4 linked regions of the Homo sapiens genome follow. The protein of the gene in region 1 purifies or fractionates together with the protein of each later gene. This does not show direct contact. Each region holds a gene or a part of one and is shown on either strand. Other genes may lie near its edges.

The links.
Region 2: the proteins of BIRC2 (region 1) and TNFRSF1A purify together in Homo sapiens (affinity purification with western blotting; 9 studies listed by BioGRID and IntAct, with this or other methods). This does not show direct contact.
Region 3: the proteins of BIRC2 (region 1) and CASP8 purify together in Homo sapiens (affinity purification with western blotting; 4 studies listed by BioGRID and IntAct, with this or other methods). This does not show direct contact.
Region 4: the proteins of BIRC2 (region 1) and TNFAIP3 purify together in Homo sapiens (affinity purification with mass spectrometry; 5 studies listed by BioGRID and IntAct, with this or other methods). This does not show direct contact.

Annotation. Positions count from the first base shown.
Region 1 is NC_000011.10:102,342,108-102,350,854, reverse strand, and holds the start of BIRC2 (baculoviral IAP repeat-containing protein 2), read right to left. Parts: upstream 3,642-8,747; 5' UTR 3,479-3,641; exon of another isoform or gene 3,010-3,478; intron 2,258-3,009; 5' UTR 1,001-2,257; coding exon 106-1,000; intron 12-105; coding exon 1-11. UniProt on the Homo sapiens protein: Multi-functional protein which regulates not only caspases and apoptosis, but also modulates inflammatory signaling and immunity, mitogenic kinase signaling, and cell proliferation, as well as cell invasion and metastasis.
Region 2 is NC_000012.12:6,338,723-6,347,686, forward strand, and holds the start of TNFRSF1A (tumor necrosis factor receptor superfamily member 1A isoform 1 precursor), read right to left. Parts: upstream 3,355-8,964; 5' UTR 3,093-3,354; coding exon 3,054-3,092; intron 1-3,053.
Region 3 is NC_000002.12:201,283,645-201,288,298, reverse strand, and holds the end of CASP8 (caspase-8 isoform 2 precursor), read right to left. Parts: intron 3,484-4,654; coding exon 2,982-3,483; intron 1,841-2,981; coding exon 1,705-1,840; 3' UTR 590-1,704; downstream 1-589. UniProt on the Homo sapiens protein: Thiol protease that plays a key role in programmed cell death by acting as a molecular switch for apoptosis, necroptosis and pyroptosis, and is required to prevent tissue damage during embryonic development and adulthood.
Region 4 is NC_000006.12:137,877,259-137,884,792, forward strand, and holds the end of TNFAIP3 (tumor necrosis factor alpha-induced protein 3), read left to right. Parts: intron 1-1,173; coding exon 1,174-2,093; intron 2,094-2,812; coding exon 2,813-2,994; intron 2,995-3,776; coding exon 3,777-4,061; 3' UTR 4,062-6,054; downstream 6,055-7,534. UniProt on the Homo sapiens protein: Ubiquitin-editing enzyme that contains both ubiquitin ligase and deubiquitinase activities.

The sequences.
Region 1 (8,747 bases):
ATCATTGCGACCTTCAGGAAAAAAAAGACTAAATATTGAAAACACGTATGTTCTAATATGTAAATTAAAATAAAATGATAAAATGTATAGTTATTTGCTTCTTACCCACATAATAAAAACCAGCACTTGCAAGCTGCTCAGGCTGAACTGGAACACTAGATGGCCAGTACATAAATGTTCTCATTCGAGCTGCATGTGTCTGCATGCTCAGATTTGAAATGCTAAACCTCAGAGTTTCTAGAGAATTTTCCAAAAATGGACAGTTGGGAAAATGCCTCCGGTGTTCTGACATAGCATCATCCTTTGGTTCCCAGTTACTGAGCTTCCCACCACAGGCAAAGCAGGCTACCCTATCTCCAGGTCCTATATAATAAAAACCAGCTCTTGCCAATTCTGATGGTGACAAAAAAGTTAATGGCCACATATGGTAGGTAAGAAATCTGGCTTCTTCAGTACTCATTGCATAACTGTAGGGGTTAGTCCTCGATGAAGAGATGTCTTCAACTGCTCTAGAATTAAGAGGGTTTGGAGAAAGGCTGGAGTAAGAACCACTGAACAAGCTACTATGTTCCAAGGTGGGAGATAATGAATGTGCAAAACTGTTTCTCATTGGAGACGTATTCTTAGAGGTGGATCCCAGACTAGCTGAAACCAGATTCTGAATAAAGCTACAGCTAGGATATAGCTGTTTATGCTTTTGAATAGGACTGTCTCCTAGTTTCCAGTTATCCAGCATCAGGCCACAACAGAAGCATTTGACCTTGTCATTCACACCAGTATAATAAAAACCAGCACGAGCAAGACTCCTTTCTGAGACAGGCACCCCGGCGGGGAAAGTTGAATATGTAGACATTCTGTAGAGTTCACAGGAAAAGTCATACTTCATTTTTTGTTTGTTGCTGTTTGTCCAATCTGACAAGATCGTGCTATCTTCCATTATACTCTTAATGTTTTGATACGAGGGACCTGGGAAAAGTCTTTGGGAGGCAGTTTTGTGCATGAGTAGGTGACAGTACTGTTTGATAGCTAAAACATTCACATGAAATTTCTTCACATGAACTAAGATTTTTACCACAAAAAGAAATCAATGATAGACTCTTATGTAGAATTTACTACACTTTCTTTACTGGATTTATCTCAGTTTATATTCAGGTAGGATGAGTATCTCTCTGAATTACCAAGATACTACTTAGAACACAACTCTTTGGGGTTGTAGTAACTCTTTCAGGTAACCTAAGTGCTATTTGTTCATAATCTTGAGTAATACTAACTTAAAGCCCTGAAAGGTGGATGCACTTCTGAAAATATTAAAACTCCTTGATTTTTCACAGAGATTTATATTAACAAAATTCTAAGCAACTATAGAATACCTAAATTATGCCTTTTATTTATATTTGGTTACAAGCTATGAAGCCTGAATAACAGACCAATTACTGATTATGCCACAAGGTAAAAAATTATATGCAGGCTTCTTTCCCTATAAGCACTTTAACATGACAACCCAAAAAATCTCATTTTATTCCAATAAACAAAAGTAATTAAAACCTTCATATGGTCACACTATTTAAAAGCTAAGTTCACACAGCTTATCATCATAGTATTTACTTAAGTGGGCTAAATTACTTCAGCTGACAACTTTTGGGGGAAGTCAATACCCACAAGCTTTGTTGAACCTGTGCCTGCTATAGTGCTTGATGTCAAATGAATTTGGCTTAAAGTTCAAAAACTGTAAACTCTATCTTTGTTAAATATCATTTGTATTTGTTTCCATTTCCTGCAGCATCATGTTGACTTTCTTCCTAACTTTGTATACCACTATTATTCTTGATCAACTGAAGGTATTTTCTCCATAAACTTAGTTAGCCATAAAATTTCCACAGCACACTTTTTACACTGCATTTAAAAACTAAATAACCTGTTCATCATTTAAGGACTATTCAGCTATAATTATCAGTCATGTTGTAAACATTAATCAATTTATCACAAGATAAAACTTGTCCTTTCTAGTGTTATCAGAAACGCCTAACAAAATATTGTACTACCAAAAAAGTACTGCTTAGCATAAAGTATCAGTAATCAACTCTACTAGCCTTCTTTCTGAAAACTCTTCAATGTTTTAAAAATATAATTCATACACAAAATTACACTCCATAGAATTCAAACTATATCCCTTTATAAAGTTTCGAGATCTCCATAATGGGATTTATTACTGCAGGGGGACAAAATAGGGATAGGGAGATTCTTCAGGGTTGTAAATCTGAAAAGAAAAAACAAAAAGTATTTTAGAAAACTGTATGTGCATGCCAAATAGAACTTACATACTCTTCAATTTATTCAGTAAAGTCTAAGAATAATTCACACTTTAGATAATACATCTTAATTCCAGCAATTTGTCACAACTTTCTAAATGAAAAAGCTATTAATTAAAATAAGTAAATGCAACATACTCCCCATAGCACTAACTATACGTGTCTTTAAAACGCACAACTTCAGAGACAGATGGAAATTTTCACACAGGAAACATTTTGTCCTTGCTCTCCTCCCCTTTTCTGGCCTAAAGGTAACTCTGGCACTCTGCTGGAGGCAAAGGCACATTGGTTAAAAAGACAGACAGACACTCCACTACACCCTGTCAGCAGCAGTACAGCAGGAATTAAGACAGCAACGTTAGTTTGTAATATCAAGTCTCTCCACGACTAGGAAAACTGCAGTAAAATGCACCACGAGTTCATTAATATAAACTCTTAAACTCTGCCATTCCCTTACAATTTCAAAGCAACGACCACAGAAAGCAACTCGAAAACAAAACCTAACACAGTGGCCTGTGAAACAGTGGCTCCGGCACTACGACCACTGGCATGATTGCTTTAATTACACCCGGTCTTATATCCTATCTTTAAATGAAAGATTTTTATCTACGTGCACCGCACTGCTGCATTCTCTTTACGCAAATTGCAGCTGGGCAGGGGATAGGATGGAAGGGAAAAGAATAGAAACTATGGGATTTACCCAATAATTTCCCAGAGTTGCTTCTCACAATACACAACAGACGACTACTGGAATGACAGAGCGCAGTGGCAACTATGAAATATGAAATATCGCCGCCACCGAAATATCTTCGTTTCAATGTATTACATTAAAAGAACGCCGAGGGCTAAGTTTAAAACCTTGCAAAAACTGCGAGAAAACATCTTGGTCAAAGTCCAAGGGCCAGAAGAGTGGGCGGCGGCCAGAGGCTTGAAAACAAGTCATTTTAAAAATCGCTTTGACTGCAAGTCTCGAAGTTGGGGCTTCCGAATCCAATAAAACCTTGGCGAGAGTAGAAAGCAGAGAGCCCCCGGCGACCCTCGACCCTTGGCCGAAGGGCCTCAGGCCCCGTCCTTCCTCGTTCGCCGCCACATCAGGGAAGTGGGCCCCCGCGGGCCCTCGCGTCCCCACCCGCCCCACGCCGCCCGAGCCCGGAAGGAGCAGCACTCACCGCAGTGCGGGCGCAGCAAACACGGAAGCTGCGCGGCTGCCTAGAGGCCTCCGCAGAGCCGGGAATCAGCGGCGCCGACAAGGAGATACGGCCCGCTCGGCTCGGATCAGCCCGGGCGCTCCCGAAGCCCGCCGCCCCATCCGGGCTCACTCTGACGCACGATGACGTCAGCGCGCCCGGCCGAGGACCAGCGTTAGCCGCCGCGCGAGGGCGCCCGGGAGGCTGGGGCCGGAAAGCGGAACCGAGAGCGCTTTCCGCCGTGCGGCGATGAACCTCCGGGAAAGACGCTGGGAGGCCAGGATGCCCGGCGCAACTGGACGCTCATCGGGAGTCACGGGGTCGGCCCTCAGGGGAACGGGGACTATCCGTATCAACTCGGTGTTTGTTCGTTTTCTTCACCTTGCGGTTTGTGCCCTCTCCACATTTCCTCTCTGTGTCTACCATTCTCCTGGGGGACGTGGCAAACCGTGAGCCGCTGCGTTTGAGTTTTGGGAAACCCTGCGGAAACGCCCTGGCGCCGGTGGTTTTGCGCGTCCTACCCTGTGTCACCTCAGGGTTATGATCTGGCCCCTGGCAAGGCTCCCCAAGTGTGATGCCTCCCCCCGTCCAGATGACTGCATTTTGAGGATGGAGTCAGTCTGGTGGCATTTTTTGCTTAAGTAAACAATTGTAACCGTTTGTGTAGCATCAGCGTTCAACAGCTGCCTGTGCAAATCGAAAAAAGCGAAACTTTGGAAACTAGGAAGCATCAGATGAATAATTCTGAAGACTTGATGTCAACGGGAGTATCTTGTTTTTAAACTTTTGGTTTTCTGTTCTGGAGACAAACAGTTCATATGCACTAAAGAAAAAAGTGTCATTATTTCAGATGCTCATTGCCAGCAAAGAGAACTGTATTGCAAGTCAGGCTTCACTCCCAGTATTTTCTGAATGTTTCAATAAAATGAAATATATACGTCTGCCTGTGTATTGGTGTACATGCACATATAATTGTACATAAACCAGAGAGGAGCCCAATTTTTTTTAATGCTTAGGTAATAGAAAATTTGTAAATAAAAACCCTTGGCTTTTGCTAGTCATGGACCTTTTGTATCCCCCCGCCATACTCCCCCAATAGTGCCATAGACACAGTGTCGTGCAGTAAATGTTTGTGGTATGACAACCAACGAACGACTTTTGAAGTTGACGCTCTTTGCCCGTTGAATCCGATGCTTGCTTCTCTCTGGGGAACTCCAAGGGGCAAATATTTAAAAAACTTCCAAATAGCAAGCCACTTAATTAGGGAGCCGGGGGAATTCCAAGACCCTGAACCATTTCCCATTTCCTGTCTGTGTCATTTCTGCCTGCCAGTCAGTCACAGAACAGGAGGTCTACTGTTCCAATGTTAATAGTCAAAGAAAGTGAGTGTAACAGTTTGTAATACAGAGAAAAGAAATGCCATGGCTCCCAATGACTAAAAACTTCCAAAAATGCACCTGGGGCTTGGTAGTAGTTTAGTATTTAGTTCAAGTCACTATTTCTCGGAAGGTTTACAGAACATTCCTAACACATGTGGGAAAATATATATAGCAAGAATTGTTCATTCTGAACTCAAGATTATTTCTCTTTTTCAGTTCTTGTCCTGACCAAAGCAGTAAGATAATGAATATACTTAAGTATAGGGGAAAGCTTGCATTTCAAAAACTCAAAAGCCTTAGATATTTTTAACAAAAAATATTTGTAATATTTACATATAATAAATAGTACCTCATAACTTTTAATCTTGTATAACTTTGTAGTCTAGTGTTACAGCTAGTTAATTCAGTTACCTGTTTATTCAGTTAATTTTTTTTCATTTTGCTAGTATAAAGTTGCTGTTAATCTTAAAAAAATAAGCTATGTATGTCTGCTGCAGTTGCCCTTCTAACGTTTTTCACATTTATGTAGAAAAAAAATTTACAGTATTTAAAACAATTTTGAAGAAGAAAAGTAAGATTGGAAGGTCTTGTCCTACCAGGTAATGAGTTACAATAAAGCCATAGTAATTGAGACAGTCTTGTATTATTAAACGCCCTAAGATGGACAATTAAAGGAAGGAGATACAGAGCCCCAAGAAGAGACCCATATCTATGTATTTGGGAATTTGATATACTGGCATTATGTATTAATGAGAAAATGATTAATTACTCAATAAGTAATGCTGAATGAATGGTTATTCTAATGGAAAATAAAATTAGATCACTACCATATACTATTTAAAAATCTCTGCCGGATTTTTTTTAAAAACCCTCAAAAGTAAACAGCCATCATTATGAATCCAGGGATTTAAAGAAGTTTGGTGAGTTGTAATCCACTGTAGCTATTACCACTATTAGTGCTCAAGTTGTTTATTTTAGGCCGGTGAGAGTTTACTCAGGTTGGCTCCTGAGTCTTTCTGATACTTTCCTAGTAGTCTTTGCTTTCCAGGCTCATTTTGTGTATTTCTTACTCCATACCCATAATAAGCCATTACTCCTAAGTGCCCTGGATCCTTTAGTGGGAAATGATATTTAAAGAGCATAATCTGGATGTCTCCTTTAAGCTGGCGCTGCAAGGAACAACAAAGAAACAAACAAAAAATGTTTGTCGTGTTGTTAATGAGTTTGATTGTTTCTATACCTGTTCAATGGACAGAGCTGGTTAGTATGGGTTTGTTTTGATTTGGTTTTTGTCTTTTAAATCAAATATATTATGAACTCATTGATACTTCCGATTCAAATTCAGGAAGTCAAGGTTTTATTTAACCTCTTTGATTACACATCTGTAACTCCCTTTATTTTGAAAATCCTTGGTCTCCCCTCTACTTTTTCCTTCCTGCCCTATAAGTAATGACTTAAACACTTTTTATGATTCATTTTTTCATTTTAAAAATGTAATTATGCATGTTTATACCTACCCTTTTCTTAGATAAACAGTAGTAGCACATTTTCTCCACCTTTTTTCACTTTATAATAAATTCTAGAGATTGTATAATACTAACATATAGAGCTATTCCTCATTTCTATATAGTACTCCATTGTGTAGATGTGCCATAATATATTCAACTTGAACAATGTAATTCAGAAAGCAGCCAAAAACTGTTAGGGCCGTGTCAAAGACTAAGGAGCCAGCCTGAATAAGCTCCCCAGCCATAGATAAAATTAGTACCATAATATATTCAGCTACTTCCCTATGGATGGACATCTGGGTGGTTTCCAGCCTTTTGCTATTACAAATAGTGCTGTAATGAATAATCATGGGAACACATCTTATTTTAGGATATATTCCCAGAAGTTAGTTCAAATGGTAAATCCATACATAAATTTGCCTAATATGGCCACATACCCATCCATGAGTATGTTGGCATTTTGCAATCCAATCAGCAATGTATGTGAGTGCCTGTTTTTCCCACAGCTTCATCCGTGGAGTAAGTTGTCAGACATTTGGATTGTTGCCAACCTGTTAAATAATAAATAGTATTTCAGTTCAGTTACCATTTTTTATTGCTATATTATGAATGGGATTGAAAAACTTTTCCTATGCATCAATTGTATATGTAATGTTTTATTTATTTTTTAAGTTAGGTGAGTATAAAAGAATGTTAGGATTGGTTGTGAGGTATTGTTAAAGAAAAAAAAATTCTGACGTTTGTTAAAATGGTAAGGAAGACTTTATTCAGGACTGTGCAATCAAAACATTGTAATAGGGAAGCAAGATTGGGCTCAACTGGGAATACAGCAAGGACAGCTGGGGTATTTATAACCAACAGGTAGAGTAAGGAGGGTCAGTGGATAGAAAAGTACTAAAAGGAGACATCAGGGGTGGTAGGATTCTTGCTGAAGGCAGGCTAAGGGCTTATACTTCAGAAGTGGAGAATGAGGAACTTGATCAGATACCCAGAGTGGCGGGATCCTCACTAAACTGACAGGATTCTTATTAAGACTGAGGTAGGCCGACAATTACAGGTGGGGTAGGGCCCAAAGTCAAGGCCTAGTCAAGAAGAGGGCTCAGAAGAGGCTCAGAAGTTTGGTCAAAGAGATAGTCTTTGTCAGTATGTACACAAATGACATGCATATATTCCTGAATTTTTGAATTTTTTAAAAAATTCAAATAGGACATTAAGAACTTACAAATTTGGGTCACATCAGAACTTCCCTTTCCAACTTTTAGTCACTTGCAGGCATCCCAAGCATTATGTTTTCATCTGTTTAAAAAAAAAAAGTCACTTTATATTTCTGTGGTAAGACTTTGGGTTTTAATTTTCATAAAACCCTTCATTAGGGTTTTGGAACTAGAGAGGATCCAATAGCTCCCTTGATTTAATCAGTTTATTTTGTATATGAGCACTCAGCCAAGGTAATTGCTAAAAAGATTTTTATAGATAATATTGAGACTCTTAAAATCCAAGACAGCTTTAAAATGTTGGCATCTGTATCAAAAGTCAGGTTTTAAAAATTTACAGAAATATTATTTAAAGGCTTAATTAGTAAACCTTAATAATTTAATGTAAATTAGAATTTCAGCAACTCCAGTTTCAAAAATCAATGAATTAAAAGTTAGGAAAATAAAGGTGTTAAAGACGGCCTGAGTATATTGGGCGCATATTGTTTGCTTCTTCACGTCAGTCTGGGACCATTAGCTCAAAACTTACCTTATCTAAGCTCAAAATTTTATCCATGTAATTGCTCAAATGTAGCTCCGATGGGCCGGGTGCAGTGGCTTACGCCTGTAATCACGGCACTTTGGGAGGCCAAGGCAGGCAGATTGCCTGAGGTCAGGAGTTTGAGACCAGCCTGGCCAACATGGTGAAACCCCATCTCTACTAAAAATTACAAAAATTATCCGGGCATGGTGGTGCATGCCTGTAGTCCCAGCTACTTGGGAGGCTGAGGCAGGAGAATCTCTTCAACCCAGGAGGTGGAGGTTGCAGTGAGACATTGCACTCCAGCCTGGGATACAGAGCAACACTCCATCTCAAAGAAAAAAAAAAGTATATATATATATATATATATATATATATATATATATATATATACATACACACACACACACACACACACACACACACACATAGCTCAGATGGCCATGTTTTTAGCCATTTAGAGTCTGCCTGCTAGCCAAAGATAAAACCGTACCTGGCATCTGTTAACCAAAGATAAGACAAAGCATAGAGCTATAAAAGACCCCAAACCTCTGCTGCCCTTCCAAGTTCTCTAACTCAGAGACTCCCTATCTTATCTTGTAGCTGTACAACATCCTAGACAGATAAACC
Region 2 (8,964 bases), on another chromosome or scaffold:
GGCCCAAGCCGTCCTCCCGAGCTCAGTCTCCCGAATAGCTGGGATGACAAGCACGCCCCACCATGCCCCGCTAATCTTTGTATTTTTTGTAGAGACAGGGTTTTGCTGTGTTGCCCAGGCTGGTCTCGAACTCCTGGACTCAAGCAATCCACACACCTCGGCCTCCTGAAGTGCTGGAATTACAGGCATGAACCACAGCACCCATCTGAGATGCCTCACCTCACTTCTAATCACAGTCTGGGCACAGAATGTGCCCTAGGAGAACAGCTTCTGAATAAACGAATGAATGAATTCCTCCACCTGGAACCATATTCAACACTCTTCCTCCATCCTCTCCCCCACTCCCTCTAATTCTCCCATTCACATTTCTTAGTGTTTCTCAACATGGTTTTTCCACTCCCGAACCAAGGTGTCTGGCTTCCTGCCACCCTGCCCATCAACACAAAATCCCATCTCTCCATTCCTCTCCTCTTCCTCACATCAGTATCCAACTCTGCTTCCCTCCTTTATAGCTACCCTGACAGGCAGTGACTTCAGATGTCAGCTCCACATCCACTTTTCTATGAGGCTTTCCCTCCGCCATCCCATCTGACACATCTCTTGTTCCTTAATTCCTTCAGCAAATAGTTAAGGGGCACAGTTAATGTGACAGGTCCCGTATGGGTGCTAGGGATGCTGAGGTGGATAATACACAGCTCGTGCTCTCAAGAGCTCTCACTTGAGTCAAAGACAGTCAGTTGTAGGCACTGAGATCTATACAGGGAGTGCTGCAGTTGCACAGTGAAGGACACTGAAGCAGCGTGGGGAAGCTCCTGAATTTTCTGGAGCTGAGCGCAGGAGCTGAGACCTGCTAAGCAAGGAAAGGCAGTGGACTAAGGCTCACCTCCTTCCCCAGTTCCTCCTCCTCCCAACTGGTGCTCCAGGACACCACATCACAATGCATTTGTGGATATTTTCCTCGGGATTGCTCTGAAATCATTTTTCACTGTAAGCCATCTTGGTTACTAGGCTGTAAGCTCTTTGAGAGCAGCAAAATCCTGTTTGCTTTGCCACAGTCTCTCCTGTATCATTCTTCCCTACTCCCCTACCCCACTTCTCTCTCTCTCTCTCTCTCTCTCTCACACACACACACACACACACACACACACACACACTGTGAGCTCTGCATTGCCCACTGAATGGTGAGAAATTCAGAAGGATGTTGCATTCCCTTTGTTTTCCCTTTCCTCCAGCTCCAGGCCAGGCTTCTGTCCCTTAGGAGACATAATCCCACCTGGGCTGAAGCACCCCAGGACGCAGGCACTTCCCTTTACCTGTTCAGGCTACCTTTACCCTCTGTTTTCCCAACACAGGTAGCCACCCAGTAATTACTACTAGTCACAGCAATATAAAAACTTTATTGAGTGCTTTCTATTTGCTACAACCTATTCCCCTGATGGACTGTCAAAGCTGTGGGCAGGGATTTTGTTCTCTGCTGTAATCCCAGCACCTATCACAGTGTCTAGCCCAGAGCGCACACTTAATAAATCAAATGAACACTTAACATGTATCAGTCTATTCAATCTTCAAAACAACAGTATGAGGTCAAGACTGTGACACCCATTTTGGAGATAAAGAAACGAAGGCATGGAAGGTTAGGTTATATAAGCTGCTCTTGTTCATGCAGGAGGTATGTGAGGGAGCCAGGGGCCGCCCCCAAACAGAAAACAGAAGCAGGATGTCAGGGCAGCTGGCTGGTGGGGAGACCGTGGGGGAAGGACAGTGGGAAGAAGGGAAGAGCGGGTGGGACTAAGGAGGCAGGAGGAGGCAGAAGAAGAAGAGTGAGACCCTGACCAGAGACGTGCTGCCTGGGGACCTGGGGCCGGGACCAGAGCGGAGCAGAGAGGAGGGGAAGGAGGATTAGCGAGAAAAGATTTCAAAAAAAGAGGCTCTGAGAAGTCTGAGGAGAGTCTGGGGAGATTGCTGGAAGAAAGGAATGGTAGGAGAGGAAGAGTATAAGGCACTAAAGAGAGGGGAGGTAGGCGCAGCCTTCAGAGGCCGGGCAGGGCAGGGAAAATCTGCCTGACTAGATGGGCCCAGGACATCTGAACAGGATGATTCCCGGACCAAGACGTGGAGGACGATCAAGGATACATTGAAACAAGGCTGAGGCCAGAGAAAGGGACATTTTCCAGTGACGAAAACAACTTTCTACCAACTTCCCCAAACTGAACTGTAGAATAAGAAACCAAGGGATTGTTGTTTAGGTCTGTGAGAAGCAGCGGGGAGGGGAAGCTGGAGGACAGGCCCAGGGACACTGACCAGGTGGGGGTAGGACTAGCTCCCTGGGAAGGCTCAGTCCCACAGCGGCTACCTGCCTAGCAGCAGGCAAAAGGGTAAAGAATGTCCCCAGGTGAGAGGCCGGGGCTTGGCCAGGGCACTGGGGACACTGTCCACTGGGTTGCCCTGCCCCATCCAGTGTCCCAGCCCATTCTCAAATACCTCCCACCATGAGCATCCCAAACCCACCACACCAGCCCATCCCCACTCCTCAACTCACTCCCCCACTTCACCAGCCGCCAAAATCCTGCCCTACAGGGTGTGCTCCACCAAGTTCCACAGGCAGCCTCGCCTCCCCACGGCCCAACACCCTCCAGGCCAGCCAGCTGACCGGAGGGACAGAATTCAGAACCGTCTGGACTCCCCGAGCACTAATCTTCCTACTCCCACTCCCTTCTTTTCCCCGCCAAATCTGCCCCACCCTGGGCCTATCTCCTGCCCACATTCCCTTGGCCGCCCACAAACTTCCACCGCTGTCAGGGGCCAGGGCTTCCTTTTACTCTCTCCCTTTCAAACTTCTCCCATTCCCCTGCCTCAGCGCAGCCCCTACTCCAAAAGGCGGATGAATGGGGAACCCCACACTGGCAGTGGCTGAGGTTAGGACCTGCAGGCCTGAGGCTGGCGCCAGGACCAGGCCCGGGCAGGAGAGGCTCGGCCCCCTCCCGGAGAGGGCCCACGCCAGCCGGAAGGTGCCTCGCCCACCAGCCCACTCTTCCCTTTGTCCCTGGTCTCACCAGTGGCAGCAGCAGGTCAGGCACGGTGGAGAGGCCCATGCCAGACAGCTATGGCCTCTCACTCCCCCATTTGGGCTCAGGGCAGTGTGGCAGCGGCAGTGCTGGGGCTTCCCGGGACTCGGTCTGTCCAGGACGTCCCAAGTGCCTTGGGGTGACAGTTGAGGGTTGAGACTCGGGCATAGAGATCACGGCCTGGTCCCAGTGATCTTGAACCCCAAAGGCCAGAACTGGAGCCTCAGTCCAGAGAATTCTGAGAAAATTAAAGCAGAGAGGAGGGGAGAGAAGGTGGGAGGGGAAGAGTGAGGCAGTGTTGCAACAGCGGGACAGGAAGAGCTGGAGGAGGAGGCCACAGGAGGCGGGAGGAGGAGGCCCAACGTTCTTTAACTCTTTGTAGTCCAGTCACAAGCACAGGAGTCCCAGATCTGGCTGCCTTGTGCCCCCAACCCACCAATCCGACCACTCCCAACCAAACACCAAGGGGCAATAAGCCCCTTGCCCACATCACTAGCCTTTCCCAGATGGATCACAGCAGTGAAAAGATCCAGAGTCTGGGAGTCAAATTCTCTGGGTTCCAATTCAGAATGCTTAGCTTTTTAGCTAAGAATGTGTCTTGGACACATAAATGAACTTCTCAGACACATAACTGAAACTGTCTGGATCTGTTTTCCAATTTGCAGAGTGGAGATAACCTGTCTCCTGGGGTTCCTGTAAGGATTTGTTCAGATGGGAGAGATATAGATAAGCGTCCGACACATGATAGGTACTCCATGTCCCTTAGTAATCCTCCCCTTTACTCCAGAGTTCTTCACTAGCCTCCTAGTCTCCCTCTTTCTTGGGAATTTACTGATCCAATCCAAAACTCAAAGTAAGTCCCAACCCTCGTTTTCTGCCCTGACTGGGTGCCTGCCATTCCTCACCCCAGGTCTCATCCAGTCTCTGCCTGGCCAGGTCCCCCCACCCTGCCCCACTGTTGATCCTGGCTCTGCCACCAATCATGCGACATCAGGCAACTCCTCTCCTAAGCCTCTGTTGGTTCCTTGTTTATTAAACAGGGGTAACAATGTCTGCCCACCTACATGGGGAAAGTGATGCCATGAGAATCAATGAGACGTATCCACGAAGCTGCCGTGGAAATAAAGATACCTCCATCAGGTGTTCCTAGCATATTCCCAGTGCCCTTTTCCTAAATATTCCAATACATCAATTATAACTCACCTTACAGATCATCGACTACAACCCCCTAGGTTTTTTTATTTCTTCGTTTGCTTGTTTTTCATTTTTGTTTTTGTTTTGAGGGTCCGCTCCGTTTCCCAGGCTGGAGTGCAGTGGTACCATCGCAGCTCACTGCAGCCTCGACCTCCCAGGTTCAAGTAATCCTCCCACCTCAGCCTCCCAAGCAGCTGGGACTATAGGTGCATACCACCACGCCTGGGTAATTTTTGTATTTTTTGTAGAGACAGGGTCTCACCATGTTACACAGGCAGGTCTTGAACTCCTGGGCCCAAATGATCTGCCCACCTCAGCCTCCTAAAGTGCTAGGATTACAGGTGTGAGCCACCGTGCCCACCCAACTGCCCGGTTTTATAGAGGAGAAAACTGAGGTCCAGAAACCCAATGTGCCAGGAGGCAGAGCCAACAGAGAACCCCAGACTCCCGACTGCCGGTCCAAGGGCCCCTTTGGCTATGAGAGACACACTGCCACTTTTTCTGTCACTGAGTCAGACCCCACATCCTGACTCTGGTTACTTTATGCCATCCTCATTGATGCAGACATCTCCCAAGAGAATCCTACAACAAAGGTACCACATTTACCCAACTATCTTCTTGGTACAATGACCTTCCCTACATCCAGCCCCGCCCAAGGGCCTGCAGCTGCTGAGGCTGCTAGAAATGCAGGCAGACAGAGAAGAGGGAGGTCCTAGGGCTTTGGAACTTGAAACCAGAGCTCCTCACCCCTTATCCCTCTGAGATGACCTCCCAGCCCCAAGTCCACCGTCCCCTGGCTCTTCCTGGCTTCCCCTCTGTGATCCGCAGATGAGAATGGAGCTTCAGTGTCCCTCACTGCGGGGGGAGCTGACTTTACTCCACCCCATCGTCCAGCTTCTGGAGAACTGTAGGGTTGAAGCTGGATTCAGAAAGGAAGCAGCTCACCACCATCACAAAGGGAGACCCCAGGGACAGGAGAAGCGAACCCAAAGCAGTGTTCTTGAAGAAGCAGGAGCCTCAGAATCAAGTGCAAGTTTCCAGTATGAAGCAGCGAGAAGAACCTCGGTCTGCTCATCTAAAAAATGGGAAACCTGCTGGTACCCTTCACAGAGCTAGCTTGATGCTTAAATCAAGCATATAAAGTGTTTGGCAAGTGTTTGCCATATATTAAGCATTTAGTAAGTGGTAGCAATTAATTTTTTTTTTGAAACAGGAGCTTGCTCTCACCCAGGCTAAAGTGCAATGGTGCAATCATAGCTCACCTAACCTAGAACTACTGGCCTCAAGCTAGCCTCCCACATCAGCCTTCCGAGTGGCTAAGACTACCATCGCACACCACTATGCCCAGCTAGTTGTATTAATGATTAATAACAACTTCAGAAGGATAAGTGATACAGGGGAGTATGGTATGTGAGAGGGCGGCAAAAAAAAAAAAAAAAAGCAGAGTGCGGTGGCTCACGCCTGCAATCCCAGCACTTTGGGAGGCTGAGGTGGGCGGATCACAAGGTCAGGAGTTCGAGACCAACCTGACCAACATGGTGAAACCCTGTCTCTACTAAATATACAAAATTAGCCAGGCGTGGTGGCGCGTGCCTGTAATCCCAGCTACTCAGGAGGCTGAGGCAGGAGAATTGCTTGAACCCAGGAGGCAGAGGTTGCAGTGAGCCGAGATCCTGCCAGTGCACTCCAGCCTGGGTGACAGAGCGAGACTCTGTATCAAAAAAAGAAACCAACTTCAATGTCCTATTTTTTTTTTTGATAGAGTTTCACTCTTGTTGCCCAGGCTGAAGTGCAGTGGCACAATCTCGGCTCACTGCAACCTCTGACTCCCGGATTCAAGCAATTCTCCTGCCTCAGCCTCCCGAGTAGCTAGGATTATAGGCATGTGCCATCATGCCCGGCTAATTTTTTGTATTTAGTAGAGACGGGGTTTCACCGTGTTAGCCAGGCTGGTCTCAAACTCCTGACTTCAGGTGATCCACCCACCCTGGCCTCCCAAAGTGCTGGGATTACAGGCATGAGCCACCACGCCCGGCCTCAATGTCCTATTTTTAATGTTATAAGGTATTTCTAATAGTCTGTGCAAAGCGCCAAAGCCGTGACACATAGCCTGGTACAAAAGGAGAATATTTTTCAATATTTAGGATACATGCTTATTTACTCAATAACTTTACAACTTTGACACGTCATATTACATTTTTCAATAAAATTTTGTTTAAAAAAAAAGATGATGAGAAGTGAGTGGATCTAGGAATATGAAAAGCTAACACGTTTCGTGGAGGAGGTGAGAATGAGACCATCATCCCTCCAGGGACAGAAAAAAATCATGGTCAGAGGAGATGGAGAAACAGGAGAGGGGCAGACTAGGGATGACAGAATCGGCTGTTAGGGCTTGTAGAGCAAAGGATGAAGAAAACAGCTACAGAGAGCAGGGACCTTCCTCCCGCATCATGGCACACACACACACACACACATGCTTAACCCAAAGGGTCACTGGACTCCAAGTCCAGATGACGTGGGTTCTAGCCCCAGACCTGCCATTCAGACTCTATGTGTCACAGGGTGGCAGGGTGAGTCATAGAAAGGGAGCTGGGTTCATGGCAGGTTCTCTAAGAATTATGAAGCTCAGCAAGTCACTTCAACTACTAAGCCTGATAAGGAAAATGAGTCAACTTGAACCCTTTTATCGCTAACAGCCTGATTCCAACTCCTAACCCCAGGGTCCAGGAGTAACCCATAGACAAGTGAATGGAGATAAGGAGACAGCTCTGGGGAAAAAAGCAGGAGGCAAGAGAAGCAGGAGCCTGGGGGAGCTGACTGCAGTCATCCGTAATACATCTGGCTATGTCCGGCAGGTCCTCCTGCCCCAGCCAGAGGAGAGGGCACTGGGGACCAGGTGGGCCAAGGCTGAGGCTGAGGGGGCAGACAAGTGCCGTCTGCACCTGAGGGCTCTGACAGAGGAGACTGCAACACCATTTCCCCTTCATCAGCTCAAGTCCAGGAAAGGGAAGTCAGCAGTCGTCACACCGTTTCAGGTCATGACCCTGTCTACCTTCCTACCCCTGTCACCAGCTCCTTCTCCTCTTTCCCCGAAAGTCTCTTCCTCCTTTGGCTCCTCAGAACAGGGAGACTGCAATTAAGATGAATAAGACTAAGGTGGCAGGGACAGAATCCCCAAAGATGGTGAGAAAGGGTCACTTCTGGATTCCAGGTCTTATGCTGGAGTGGGGGAGAAACAAGGATCGGAGAGCTGGAGTTCCACTCGCACATCCTTCAGCCCCTCCCTGGACCTCAGTCTCTCCTTTACTAAAGCTGGGAGGATTCCCTGTGCCCCTCTCTGCAATCATGTACCAATAAGACCATATAAGGCTTTGCATTTCCAGGAGAAACTGGCCTGAGCCTCATCATCCTCCACCACCACCAGACAGCTGATGGGAGGCAGGCAGATGAGGGTTCATTGCCGCCAGGTGGTAAGTGGGACTCAGCAAGTGGAGTGGGGGATGGGGAGGTTAGTGATGATGGTGACTAAAGCAGAGAAGGAAAAGGAGGTTCAGACAGTGGAGAGGGCAAGTCTCCCCAAACACTGTGAGGTAGGTCCCCTGAAGGGGTGGCATCATGTCTTCCCCCTTCCACCCTAACATGGCCATGGGCACATAGCAGACGCTCAGCAACACCCATGGAGGAATTCACCAGAACGTTTGTCCCTCTTAAGACCCCGTGAAGAATGGTCACTTCCATGGTGCAGCCAAGGGGCATGGGAGTCTGTACCCTCTCCCAGCCCCAGGACCTCCCAGAAGCTTGGGTGATGACTTGTATCCACCCCCTACCCTCTTCATGATGCCCCATCCAGCTCTCCAGACATTCCTTCATGCAACAAACATTTATTGAGCTCCTGCCTACTTGCTCCAAGCAGGATGATGGGCTAGACATGGAGCATACATAAACGGGCAAGATTCAGTCCCTGACCGCAAGGCACTTACAGTCTAGTTGGGAAGGGAGACACAAATGTACAAGAAAGTATGGTGCAACAGCAACACTCCAGCAGATGTTATAGTGTGCTACGGGAGCCCAGGAGAAGGCGGAGTGATCAATTTTGGGGAAGACAAGATGTGGCAGAAGCGTTCACAAAAGTAATGGTGTCTGAGCAGGGTTCTAAGGGATGCATAGGAGTTCTCTGGCAGATGGTTGGGGAAACTTTCAGGCTGAGGAAATATCTCAAGCAGACATGTAGAGGTATGAAAGACACAGGGCAGAGGTGCCGGGGCATGGCTCTGTGAGGGCACGGGTATGAGGCTAGAGGAGCCCTGGGTCTGCCTTTACTTACCCGGGTCTGCTCTAGCCCTAGCCCTCGGGAGTCAGGGAAGGGGAATTGCCTAAGTAACAAAGGGGGCTTTTGGGTGGGGTTTCCCACCCAAGTTCAAGAGGAGGAGCAGACATCTGTGCTACTGGAGAGCAGTGTGGCCAGGCCAGTCGGGGGCTGGCTTAAGCCGTCGCTGGGCAGGAAACCCGTGCATGCCTGCGTGTACCCTTGGTTGTGTTTTGTCCTGGTTATCAGCGGTTTCTTAGGAAAGTTCCTTGTCAAAGCTCCAAGTTTCGCTTGGCTGATCCAAGGGAAAAAGAGACTTAGCCGCAGTTGGGTGGGGAAACCAGAGTGTTCAGAGGCAGTACCAAGGGGTACAGGGCTGGAGCCAAGGCACTTCTGGGC
Region 3 (4,654 bases), on another chromosome or scaffold:
AGCAAAAAAAGATGATGTGTTGATTTTACTCTAAAATATTTTTCTCTCACACCCATGCCCCCTACTTCCCTACCTCTCAATCATGTTCCCTAACCTATGACTTAGGAAGGGTTTCTGATGATTCTTACCACCTCCTCTGGACCATCACCAGAATTCAGACACCCACAGTGCAGGCAACATAAATAAGTGAAGTGGGCTAGACATAAGGAAAACAATTGCCCAAGCACAGTGATAAGTGGCAACCAACAGCAGCCTCAGTAGAGGGGCTTGGGCAGGGCTGGGGCACAGCGGATGGGGAAGAGTGACCCACAGAGCACTGTCCCATCTGAAGAAGGTGCTTCTCAGACCTTTGCCATGCAAAAGCATGAGGTCAATATTGTCAGATAGTATGATTTTTTAAAAGAAGTTATTCTGGTTTTTATGTGATATCTCCTAATTTTTAAACATTGACAACAAATTTTAAAAATACAACTGTGTGTGCCGATCATGGGAGACTCAAGTAGAACATGTCTGTAGTCCAGATGTTTTCCACCTGTGAGATGTCATTGGCAGAAACCAAAACCAAACACAAAAAATCTCCAAGGAGCAATAAGATCAAATTATATTTTATTCTATTAAAAAATGTTTTTGAAAAAAGATACTTAAATTTTAAAGATAACTTAATTCCTAATGATTTAAAATAATCCAAGCAGAGATGAAAGAGCAAATGCAAATGCATAAAAAGACCCCAGAGCATTGTTAGCAAAAAGCAAATATAGTTAGCCAAGCATATATATATCATAAAAGCAATAAGAAGGCATAAAGCAAGTTTGGGGAGAGCTTATTTAAAACTTGTAAAAATCATTTGAATTTTTAAAAGATTTCAAACAAATTTTGTTTTATTAAAAAAAAAATTTTTTTTGAGACGGGGTCTTGTTCTGTCACCCAAGCTTGAGTGCAGCGGTGTGAACATGGCTCACTGCAGCCTTGACCTCTTGGGTTCAAGCAATCCTCCCACCTCAACCTCCCAAAGTGCTGGGATTATAGACATGAGCCACCATACGTGGCTACTTTCTAATTTTTTTAATGTGGTAGTGTGGAATTTAGCTTTGAAAGAGAATTAAAGTTAATAGAATATTAACAGTGGGCTTATAGTTGATAGATAACAATCTGAATCATAAGCCCTCTATATTCATAGCTGGATTTTGTACGTGTCTGGTATTTATTGCCACCAGCTAAAAACATTCCCAAAGCCTTAAGCATAAGAGAAAGGAGACAGTGTTATTGTTGTTAATATCCTATTTAACTTTAGCTCTTATAAAAAAGTGCAAAACAATTAATAAAGTAGAAAATCTAGAAAATTAGTAAATAAACATAGTGTTATATCTAAATAGTACCATCGGCCAGGCGCGGTGGCTCACGCCTGTAATCCCAGCACTTTGGGAGGCCGAGGTGGGTGGATCACGAGGTCAGGAGATCAAGACCACCCTGGCTAACACAGTGAAACCCTGTCTCTACTAAAAATATTTTTAAAAAATTAGCCAGGTGTGGTGGCGGGCCCCTGTAGTCCCAGCTACTCGGGAGGCTGAGGCAGGAGAATGGCCTGAACCCGGGAGGCGGAGCTTGCGGTGAGCCGAGATCACGCCACTGCACTCCAGCCTGGGCGACAGAGCGAGATTCTGTCTCAAAAAAACAAAACAAAACAAAACAAACAAAATAGCACCATCAATCAGAAGGGAAGACAAGTTTTTTTCTTAGTGTGAAAGTAGGCTGAGGCATCTGTTTCCCCATGTTTTTCTTGTCATCCTTGTTGCTTACTTCATAGTTCACTTCAGTCAGGATGGTGAGAATATCATCGCCTCTGAAATACATCACATAATATTGTGACTGTCTGTGGGGGAAAGCAACTGATGAACTGTCTCCTCTGCTGTGCTCAGAGATAGTTCTGTAGTTCTTTCTCTCAAAATATCAGTCATTTGAAACAATAAGGTGCGAAACCAAGACCTACCCCAGCTTTCCTGGTAAATGGGTTGTCTCAGAGCTTAATAACTTACTTTTGGTTTATTCAGGAACTCTTTTGACCATCAGAAACCTCGGTGTCAGTATTAGAGTTGGTTTCTTTCTCTCCTGACCTGTGTGTCTCTCACTCTTCTCCACGTTACTTGGCTCCCCATTGCTTCAATGCCCCCCAATACTCTCTGCCTCGAATTGACATCGCATCTGCGGATTCATCTTTGATGCAATTAAACTTAAGGCAAGTGAAAGTATAACGTCTCCTGCAGCTACTCCCACCTTCTTCTCACCAGGATCTCTTAGCATTTTTGTTAGGCAACCTCTTCTTCTACCTTGGTAGCTAGCCGCGGAAACCTTGCAGGATTCATGATCTAAGTTACGAAATCTAAGTTAGATTCATGATCTAAGTTACGGGAAATTCTCACTCTTCATATACTCAAAACATGAAATACAGGGCTAGAAGGAACCTGCTATTTATCTCCCATAATGCACCAAGAGGTTTTGAGGATGGTTTGCTATTATAGAACTTTTGACAGAGTTGGAGGATGTTTAAACATTGAATTGGGTTACTGCCTTCTTGGAAGATTTCCAAAACTAGTTGAATTGGCTCAGTCATGTTTTGGCCTAAAGACAGAGAGCTGGAGTATATGACTTTCCTATCCTTTCCTGCTCTGTGATACCCTGATTGTCCTTTGAGGTGCTGAATAAAGGAATAAAGCATCTCAGCTTTTCCATCTATAAACTAAGGATGTTAACACTTGCCACTCTCCCACTTTGTAACTGACCTGGGAAATGCAGCTATGTGATCTACAGCTAGACATTTAGAGTTGAACGGAAACCACTCCCCTTGGACAGTTCTCTGACCTGTTAATGTGATCTAAATCACATAGCACTTTCTAATAGGCTCTGAATATGAGTAGATAGTAGTGTGATGGAGTAGGGGGGGAAGGTAGTGTAACAGTGAGGAGGGCTGAGTAGGCAAAACTTACCGAGGACATCGCTCTCTCAGGCTCTGGCAAAGTGACTGGATGTACCAGGTTCCCTCTGCAGGGTTTCGGTAGGAAACACAGTTATTCACAGTGGCCATCCCCAGCAGAAAGTCAGCCTCATCCGGGATATATCTCGTTTGAGGTGATGATAAATCCATTTCTAAATAGGGTTGCTCCTCTGAATCAGTCTCAACAGGTATACCTTTCTGGTAGTTATCCCCCTGACAAGCCTGAATAAAAAACACTTTGGGTTTTCCAGCAAGGGAAGGGCACTTCAAACCAGTGAACTGAGATGTCAGCTCATAGATGGGGGCCTCCTGTCCATCAGTGCCATAGATGATGCCCTTGTCTCCATGGGAGAGGATACAGCAGATGAAGCAGTCCATGTTACTGTGGTCCATGAGTTGGTAGATTTTCAAAATCTCATAGATTTGCTCTACTGTGCAGTCATCGTGGGGCTTGATCTCAAAATGAAGCTCTTCAAAGGTCGTGGTCAAAGCCCCTGAAAAGTGAAATTTGAACAGTCACGTTATACCACAGTAATTCACAGACCACAGCTGGAGAGCACAGTGGGCATAACATTGATAGATAAGAATTTGACCCCTCTCCCTCTCCCTCTCCCCGTCTCCCTCTCCCTCTCCCTCTCCCCGTCTCCCTCTCCCTCTCATGCCGAGCCAAAGCTGGACGGTACTGCTGCCATCTCGGCTCACTGCAACCTCCCTGCCTGATTCTCCTGCCTCAGCCTGCCGAGTGCCTGCGATTGCAGGCGCGCGCCGCCACGCCTGACTGGTTTTCGTTTTTTTTTTGGTGGAGATGGGGTTTCGCTGTGTTGGCCGGGCTGGTCTCCAGCTCCTAACCGCGAGTGATCCGCCAGCCTCGGCCTCCCGAGGTGCCGGGATTGCAGATGGAGTCTCGTTCACTCAGTGCTCAATGGTGCCCAGGCTGGAGTGCAGTGGCGTGATCTCGGCTTGCTACAACCACCTCCCAGCCGCCTGCCTTGGCCTCCCAAAGAGCCGAGATTGCAGCCTCTGCCCGGCCGCCACGCCGTCTGGGAAGTGAGGAGCGTCTCTGCTTGGCCACCCATCGTCTGGGATATGAGGAGCCCCTCTGCCTGGCTGCCCAGTGTGGAAAGTGAGGAGCGTCTCTGCCCGGCCGCCATCCCATCTAGGAAGCGAGAAGCGCCTCTTCCCCGCCGCCATCCCATCTAGGAAGTGAGGAGCGTCTCTGCCCGGCCGCCCATCGTCTGAGATGTGGGGAGCACCTCTGCCCCACCGCCCTGTCTGGGATGTGAGGAGCGCCTCTGCTGGGCCGCAACCCTGTCTGGGAGGTGAGGAGTGTCTCTGCCCGGCCGCTCCGTCTGAGAAGTGAGGAAACCCTCTGCCTGGCAACCGCCCCGTCTGAGAAGTGAGGAGCCCCTCCGTCTGGCAACCACCCCGTCTGGGAAGTGAGGAGCGTCTCCGCCCGGCAGCCACCCCGTCCGGGAGGGAGGTGGGGGGGGTCAGCCCCCCGCCCGGCCAGCCGCCCCGTCCGGGAGGTGAGGGGCTCCTCTGCCCGGCCGCCCCTACTGGGAAGTGAGGAGCCCCTCTGCCCGGCCAGCCGCCCCGTCCGGGAGGGAGGCGGGGGGGGGTGGTCGGCCATCCGCCCCGTCCGGGAGGTGAGGGGCGCCTCTGCCC
Region 4 (7,534 bases), on another chromosome or scaffold:
AAGCAGTTTATGTTCAGCTCTCTCCTGTGTCATCTGTAACTGTCTTTAACCTCAGCCACCTGAGTTGCTGCCACCCTGAAGCTCAACAGTAGAGTGATTTGCGGCCAGTTTCTGCCAATGGGAAACAAATTCAGAGTCTTGTGCATGGTTAGAGAGGATTATGTAAGGCAGTACTAACTTGGGTTTCAAATCAAAACATGTCATTTATCCATAATGATTTTCCTGGATATCTGGATCCCAAAAGTCAGAATTGCAGAATTATGGGTTTTCAAAGTGCATTTACATCAAGGATAGTTGTTGTTTCTTGTTTTTGTATTTTAATTACTCTGGTACATATTAAAAAGACTAGTGAAAACACTTGGAAACAAAAGCCTTTCTCTCTTGGCTTCTTGGTAAGAACAGGCACATCAGACATAGATGGAGCTGTAGAATTGTTTATGTTGCAGCTCATGATTCTGCCACATGGAAATGGGAGGAAAGCCCCAGAATACCCATTGTGCAGGTATCCGGTCTTTAAACATTGGCTTTATGTTAAAGAGATGCCTGTTTCTGAGCACTTGAAACGCACAACAGATGACAAGGAAGCCGTAAGAGAATCTGTCTCTCAATGTGGAGATTAGCAAATTACAGAGTCAACAGTAAATAGACAAGCGCCTTTGAGTGTGTCTGCGTCTTAGTTACTCATGGCTGCTAATGCTGGTGGAGACTAGACACAAGTTTAAAGTTAGTAACAGCAAAATACCCAACCTGAGGTTCCAAAGTAGTTTGTACTATAAAGTAGACTAGTCCCAAACCAATGGCCTCAGTAATATTTTACTCAGAATTTGATCTCTGAGAAATTGGAAAGTCAACTGATTTTTCTTAGCCCTTGTTTTAGAACTATCTATAATTTTTGGATGGACCAAGATTGATTAAATGAAACTGTGATTTTAAAAATAAGGAAGTCTTAGCAAACTAACTGACATCATTCTTGACTCGAACATGTTGGGAAATGTGTCAGATCATGTTGCGTGAAAAGTGTGAGCTCTTCATCACAGGCCTGCATTTCAGTGAATGGTTCTACAATTCTTGCCATAATCCACATTCTAAAACTTTGTTCTATGAGCTAATGATGTAAAATCTTGTGTGTGATTTTGTGTATTCTCATACATATTTTTTCCTTTTGGTCTTCAGGTTGGATGAAGCTAACTTACCAAAAGAAATCAATCTGGTAGATGATTACTTTGAACTTGTTCAGCATGAGTACAAGAAATGGCAGGAAAACAGCGAGCAGGGGAGGAGAGAGGGGCACGCCCAGAATCCCATGGAACCTTCCGTGCCCCAGCTTTCTCTCATGGATGTAAAATGTGAAACGCCCAACTGCCCCTTCTTCATGTCTGTGAACACCCAGCCTTTATGCCATGAGTGCTCAGAGAGGCGGCAAAAGAATCAAAACAAACTCCCAAAGCTGAACTCCAAGCCGGGCCCTGAGGGGCTCCCTGGCATGGCGCTCGGGGCCTCTCGGGGAGAAGCCTATGAGCCCTTGGCGTGGAACCCTGAGGAGTCCACTGGGGGGCCTCATTCGGCCCCACCGACAGCACCCAGCCCTTTTCTGTTCAGTGAGACCACTGCCATGAAGTGCAGGAGCCCCGGCTGCCCCTTCACACTGAATGTGCAGCACAACGGATTTTGTGAACGTTGCCACAACGCCCGGCAACTTCACGCCAGCCACGCCCCAGACCACACAAGGCACTTGGATCCCGGGAAGTGCCAAGCCTGCCTCCAGGATGTTACCAGGACATTTAATGGGATCTGCAGTACTTGCTTCAAAAGGACTACAGCAGAGGCCTCCTCCAGCCTCAGCACCAGCCTCCCTCCTTCCTGTCACCAGCGTTCCAAGTCAGATCCCTCGCGGCTCGTCCGGAGCCCCTCCCCGCATTCTTGCCACAGAGCTGGAAACGACGCCCCTGCTGGCTGCCTGTCTCAAGCTGCACGGACTCCTGGGGACAGGACGGGGACGAGCAAGTGCAGAAAAGCCGGCTGCGTGTATTTTGGGACTCCAGAAAACAAGGGCTTTTGCACACTGTGTTTCATCGAGTACAGAGAAAACAAACGTGAGTGAAGTGGTTGACTTCCTAACACAGCGGCTGCTGTCCAGAAGGGGTTTTGTTCCTGACCTTTAAGAAAAAAAGCCCATGTAGGCAGTCAGGCAGAACTGTCAGGACCTACCGTGCTTTTCTACCAGCTTGTGCAGGGGACAGTCACGGTGGCCCTGCCAGCCGCCCATGGAGGCAAAAGGCACTGCGTGATTACAGCAGCTCCTAATATCACATTCCAAAAACCAGAGTGCCCTGTAGACAGAGCTCATGGGATGTGCTTTTACTAGACCATTCAGGTCTGGCATATCTAAGAGAGTCTAAGTTTAAACTAGACTTATTTTGCAACTTAGATATAACAGAACAATCTTAAAATCTGAAGAGTAGTAACTGGAGAGAAGGAAGTCTCTGTTGACACTGTAAGGAAACAGATGTGGTTTGGAAATCTCTCATTGGAAAGAAGGGTGATCAGGTAATGCCTGCTCCTTGCCTGTTCCTGTGAGCAATCAGTGCTTCAAGTTCAAAATGAGAGATTGGTAAAGCCAAAGATGTTTCCATAATAGGGATGTTATTTCTTTTGCTGAATTTATAGACTTAAACATATACATATATATATTTCTATACATTTAAGGCTGGCCTAATCTGTATTTGGAACCCATTTATTTCTCTACTGTCAGCATCTCTGTATCGGTGGGGTGACCCCTATGTGGTACTAACTAGCATCCATTCTCATGTAGATTTTGCTGCTGCCTCAGGGAAAGTCAGTCCCACAGCGTCCAGGTTCCAGAACACCATTCCGTGCCTGGGGAGGGAATGCGGCACCCTTGGAAGCACCATGTTTGAAGGATACTGCCAGAAGTGTTTCATTGAAGCTCAGAATCAGAGATTTCATGAGGCCAAAAGGACAGAAGAGCAACTGGTGAGACACTTGGAGGAGCTTTCCCTCCCTCCCGTGTGTTCGATGCTTTTTGCTGGAGCGTTTTCTACCGACAGTGACAAGCAGGCTTTCCTCTCTGCCAGGTTCTGTCTCCTCATGATAAAGGATTAATTCAGAACCTGAAGGGGAATGTCCATGTCACTGTGGCTCCCCAGGTCCGAAATGCTACCTCCAATTTTCATGCTCCAAGTATGCTTTCAAATTTATTTTAAAAACAAAGAAACACAGCCATTGCATAAAACTTCTTCAAGCCTCCAAAAAGCCAGATGGTGATCAGAGGCTTCTTTGATTTGTAAGAGAAGCACAGACATCTAAAAAGCAGCCCTTCTTAAATAATCCTTTATCATAAGGAGCGAACAGACAGAGCTTCCCAGGGGCCTGCCTCCACCTAATGGCGCGTCAGAAAAGCCAGCTTTGACAGATAGGTGTGTCGCCTGTTGCTCACAGAATGGTAGGGAAGCTATGTAAGAACAGTGGTTTTTGGTCCCAACAGAAGAGAGCCAGGGAAAGTTTGCAGGCCAACTTAGGCTTGGCGGTTTTCCTCAGCCTCCCTGGGGGCCAAGTCAGCTTTCCTTGAGACTGGAAAGAAACATCCTTCGAGAGCTCTGGCTCATAGACTGCAATGCTCTCCTGTTCCCTTGCTCAGGCAGGTAAAGCTCTTTGTAGACTCCACACTCTCCAATGAGATTTCATTGTGCTCTCCCTAAGAAATGTGAGCAATAGTTTCCTGACTTTTTAATGATCTGCCTGTTCTTTCCACTCAGAGATCGAGCCAGCGCAGAGATGTGCCTCGAACCACACAAAGCACCTCAAGGCCCAAGTGCGCCCGGGCCTCCTGCAAGAACATCCTGGCCTGCCGCAGCGAGGAGCTCTGCATGGAGTGTCAGCATCCCAACCAGAGGATGGGCCCTGGGGCCCACCGGGGTGAGCCTGCCCCCGAAGACCCCCCCAAGCAGCGTTGCCGGGCCCCCGCCTGTGATCATTTTGGCAATGCCAAGTGCAACGGCTACTGCAACGAATGCTTTCAGTTCAAGCAGATGTATGGCTAACCGGAAACAGGTGGGTCACCTCCTGCAAGAAGTGGGGCCTCGAGCTGTCAGTCATCATGGTGCTATCCTCTGAACCCCTCAGCTGCCACTGCAACAGTGGGCTTAAGGGTGTCTGAGCAGGAGAGGAAAGATAAGCTCTTCGTGGTGCCCACGATGCTCAGGTTTGGTAACCCGGGAGTGTTCCCAGGTGGCCTTAGAAAGCAAAGCTTGTAACTGGCAAGGGATGATGTCAGATTCAGCCCAAGGTTCCTCCTCTCCTACCAAGCAGGAGGCCAGGAACTTCTTTGGACTTGGAAGGTGTGCGGGGACTGGCCGAGGCCCCTGCACCCTGCGCATCAGGACTGCTTCATCGTCTTGGCTGAGAAAGGGAAAAGACACACAAGTCGCGTGGGTTGGAGAAGCCAGAGCCATTCCACCTCCCCTCCCCCAGCATCTCTCAGAGATGTGAAGCCAGATCCTCATGGCAGCGAGGCCCTCTGCAAGAAGCTCAAGGAAGCTCAGGGAAAATGGACGTATTCAGAGAGTGTTTGTAGTTCATGGTTTTTCCCTACCTGCCCGGTTCCTTTCCTGAGGACCCGGCAGAAATGCAGAACCATCCATGGACTGTGATTCTGAGGCTGCTGAGACTGAACATGTTCACATTGACAGAAAAACAAGCTGCTCTTTATAATATGCACCTTTTAAAAAATTAGAATATTTTACTGGGAAGACGTGTAACTCTTTGGGTTATTACTGTCTTTACTTCTAAAGAAGTTAGCTTGAACTGAGGAGTAAAAGTGTGTACATATATAATATACCCTTACATTATGTATGAGGGATTTTTTTAAATTATATTGAAATGCTGCCCTAGAAGTACAATAGGAAGGCTAAATAATAATAACCTGTTTTCTGGTTGTTGTTGGGGCATGAGCTTGTGTATACACTGCTTGCATAAACTCAACCAGCTGCCTTTTTAAAGGGAGCTCTAGTCCTTTTTGTGTAATTCACTTTATTTATTTTATTACAAACTTCAAGATTATTTAAGTGAAGATATTTCTTCAGCTCTGGGGAAAATGCCACAGTGTTCTCCTGAGAGAACATCCTTGCTTTGAGTCAGGCTGTGGGCAAGTTCCTGACCACAGGGAGTAAATTGGCCTCTTTGATACACTTTTGCTTGCCTCCCCAGGAAAGAAGGAATTGCATCCAAGGTATACATACATATTCATCGATGTTTCGTGCTTCTCCTTATGAAACTCCAGCTATGTAATAAAAAACTATACTCTGTGTTCTGTTAATGCCTCTGAGTGTCCTACCTCCTTGGAGATGAGATAGGGAAGGAGCAGGGATGAGACTGGCAATGGTCACAGGGAAAGATGTGGCCTTTTGTGATGGTTTTATTTTCTGTTAACACTGTGTCCTGGGGGGGCTGGGAAGTCCCCTGCATCCCATGGTACCCTGGTATTGGGACAGCAAAAGCCAGTAACCATGAGTATGAGGAAATCTCTTTCTGTTGCTGGCTTACAGTTTCTCTGTGTGCTTTGTGGTTGCTGTCATATTTGCTCTAGAAGAAAAAAAAAAAAGGAGGGGAAATGCATTTTCCCCAGAGATAAAGGCTGCCATTTTGGGGGTCTGTACTTATGGCCTGAAAATATTTGTGATCCATAACTCTACACAGCCTTTACTCATACTATTAGGCACACTTTCCCCTTAGAGCCCCCTAAGTTTTTCCCAGACGAATCTTTATAATTTCTTTCCAAAGATACCAAATAAACTTCAGTGTTTTCATCTAATTCTCTTAAAGTTGATATCTTAATATTTTGTGTTGATCATTATTTCCATTCTTAATGTGAAAAAAAGTAATTATTTATACTTATTATAAAAAGTATTTGAAATTTGCACATTTAATTGTCCCTAATAGAAAGCCACCTATTCTTTGTTGGATTTCTTCAAGTTTTTCTAAATAAATGTAACTTTTCACAAGAGTCAACATTAAAAAATAAATTATTTAAGAACAGATTGTGATGTTTTCAATTGATGAATGCTGAAAGAAAAAGAAAGGCTTGGATATTAAGACTGTGCTTCCTAAGCAGCTTTATTTTGAGGTGCACCTGAGCAATGCACACATCTCTCATCCATGGTAGCAAGGCAGCTTTTCATAAATAATAACTGTATGAGGTCCAGGCCCAGTCCTCAAGCACAAGCCCCCGCTTGACAATGAAGACACTCTTCCTCTGATGGGAAGAGGAAAGGGATGCTAGGACCCTGTGGCCCTTTTAAGCTTCCTGCCCTAAACTTTTATAAAGTGAAGAAAGAGAAAACAAGAGGGAGGAGGAGGGAAAGACAGGAAAGAGAGAAGTAGGCAGGCAGGAAGGAAGACTGATGTAAGATCTCCTGGGTCAGACAAAGCAGAGGAGGCAGCGTGGCTGTGCTGGCTGCCAGAACCAGGAAATTAAAAAATAACACATTCCTCCATGCGCAAGCCTTCATCCCCACCTCCCATCCAGTACAAATGGACTCACAGACGACTGATTCAGCAGGACTGCGCAGCTCCCAGAATCTACTTTTTTAAGCTCCTCGGGTGATCTGGATGATCAGCCAGATTTTAGAATCACACTTTAAAAAATATATTTATAATTTTTTTTTAACTTTTTAAAAGTAGAAAACTTTAATAAGAAAGTGACAAGTACTATAAAGAGCCACTCTATAGCCATCCTCCAGTTTCAATAATTACCAACGTTCTGCCCAATTTGTTTCATCTATCACATCCTCTTTTTTGTTTTTCCTGGACTACTTGAAAGCAAATCCCAGATATTGTGTCTTCATACCCATAAATATTTCAGTGTGCACCTCTAATTGAATAGAATATGTCCTTTTAACATAACCACCATTATCAGAGCCAGCTAAATTATTTTATTCTTTAATATCCAAATTCCAAGTATGTATTCTAATTTCTCAGTTTATCCACCATACAAGACAAAGTCTTATTGCTTTCGTTTAGTAAGGATCTTTTCTTTTTTTTTTAATGTTTAGCAATATTTATTAGGACGTATACCTACCTTATGATCCAAAAATTCCAATCCTAGGTATACACTCAATGGTATACACTCTACTCCTAGCTATACACCCATAAAACAGAAATGCATGCATATGTTCACCAAAATATGGTACTAAAATGTTCATCTCAGCAGTATTCATAATAGCTCCAAACTACAAACGATCCAAATGTTCATTAACAGGAGAAAAGAGAAATATATTGTGGTATATTCATATAATGGATTATCATATAGCAGTAAGAGTGAATAGGCACCTGTAGTTCCAGCTACTCAGGAGGCTGAGGTGGGAGAACTGCTTAAGGCTACAGTGAGTTATAAGGCTCTATTTATTTATTTATTTATTTTTGAGACAGAGTCTTTTTTAAATTTTTTTTTATTATACTTTAAGTTCTGGGATACATGTGTAGAACGTTCAGGTTTGTTACATAGGTATACATGTGC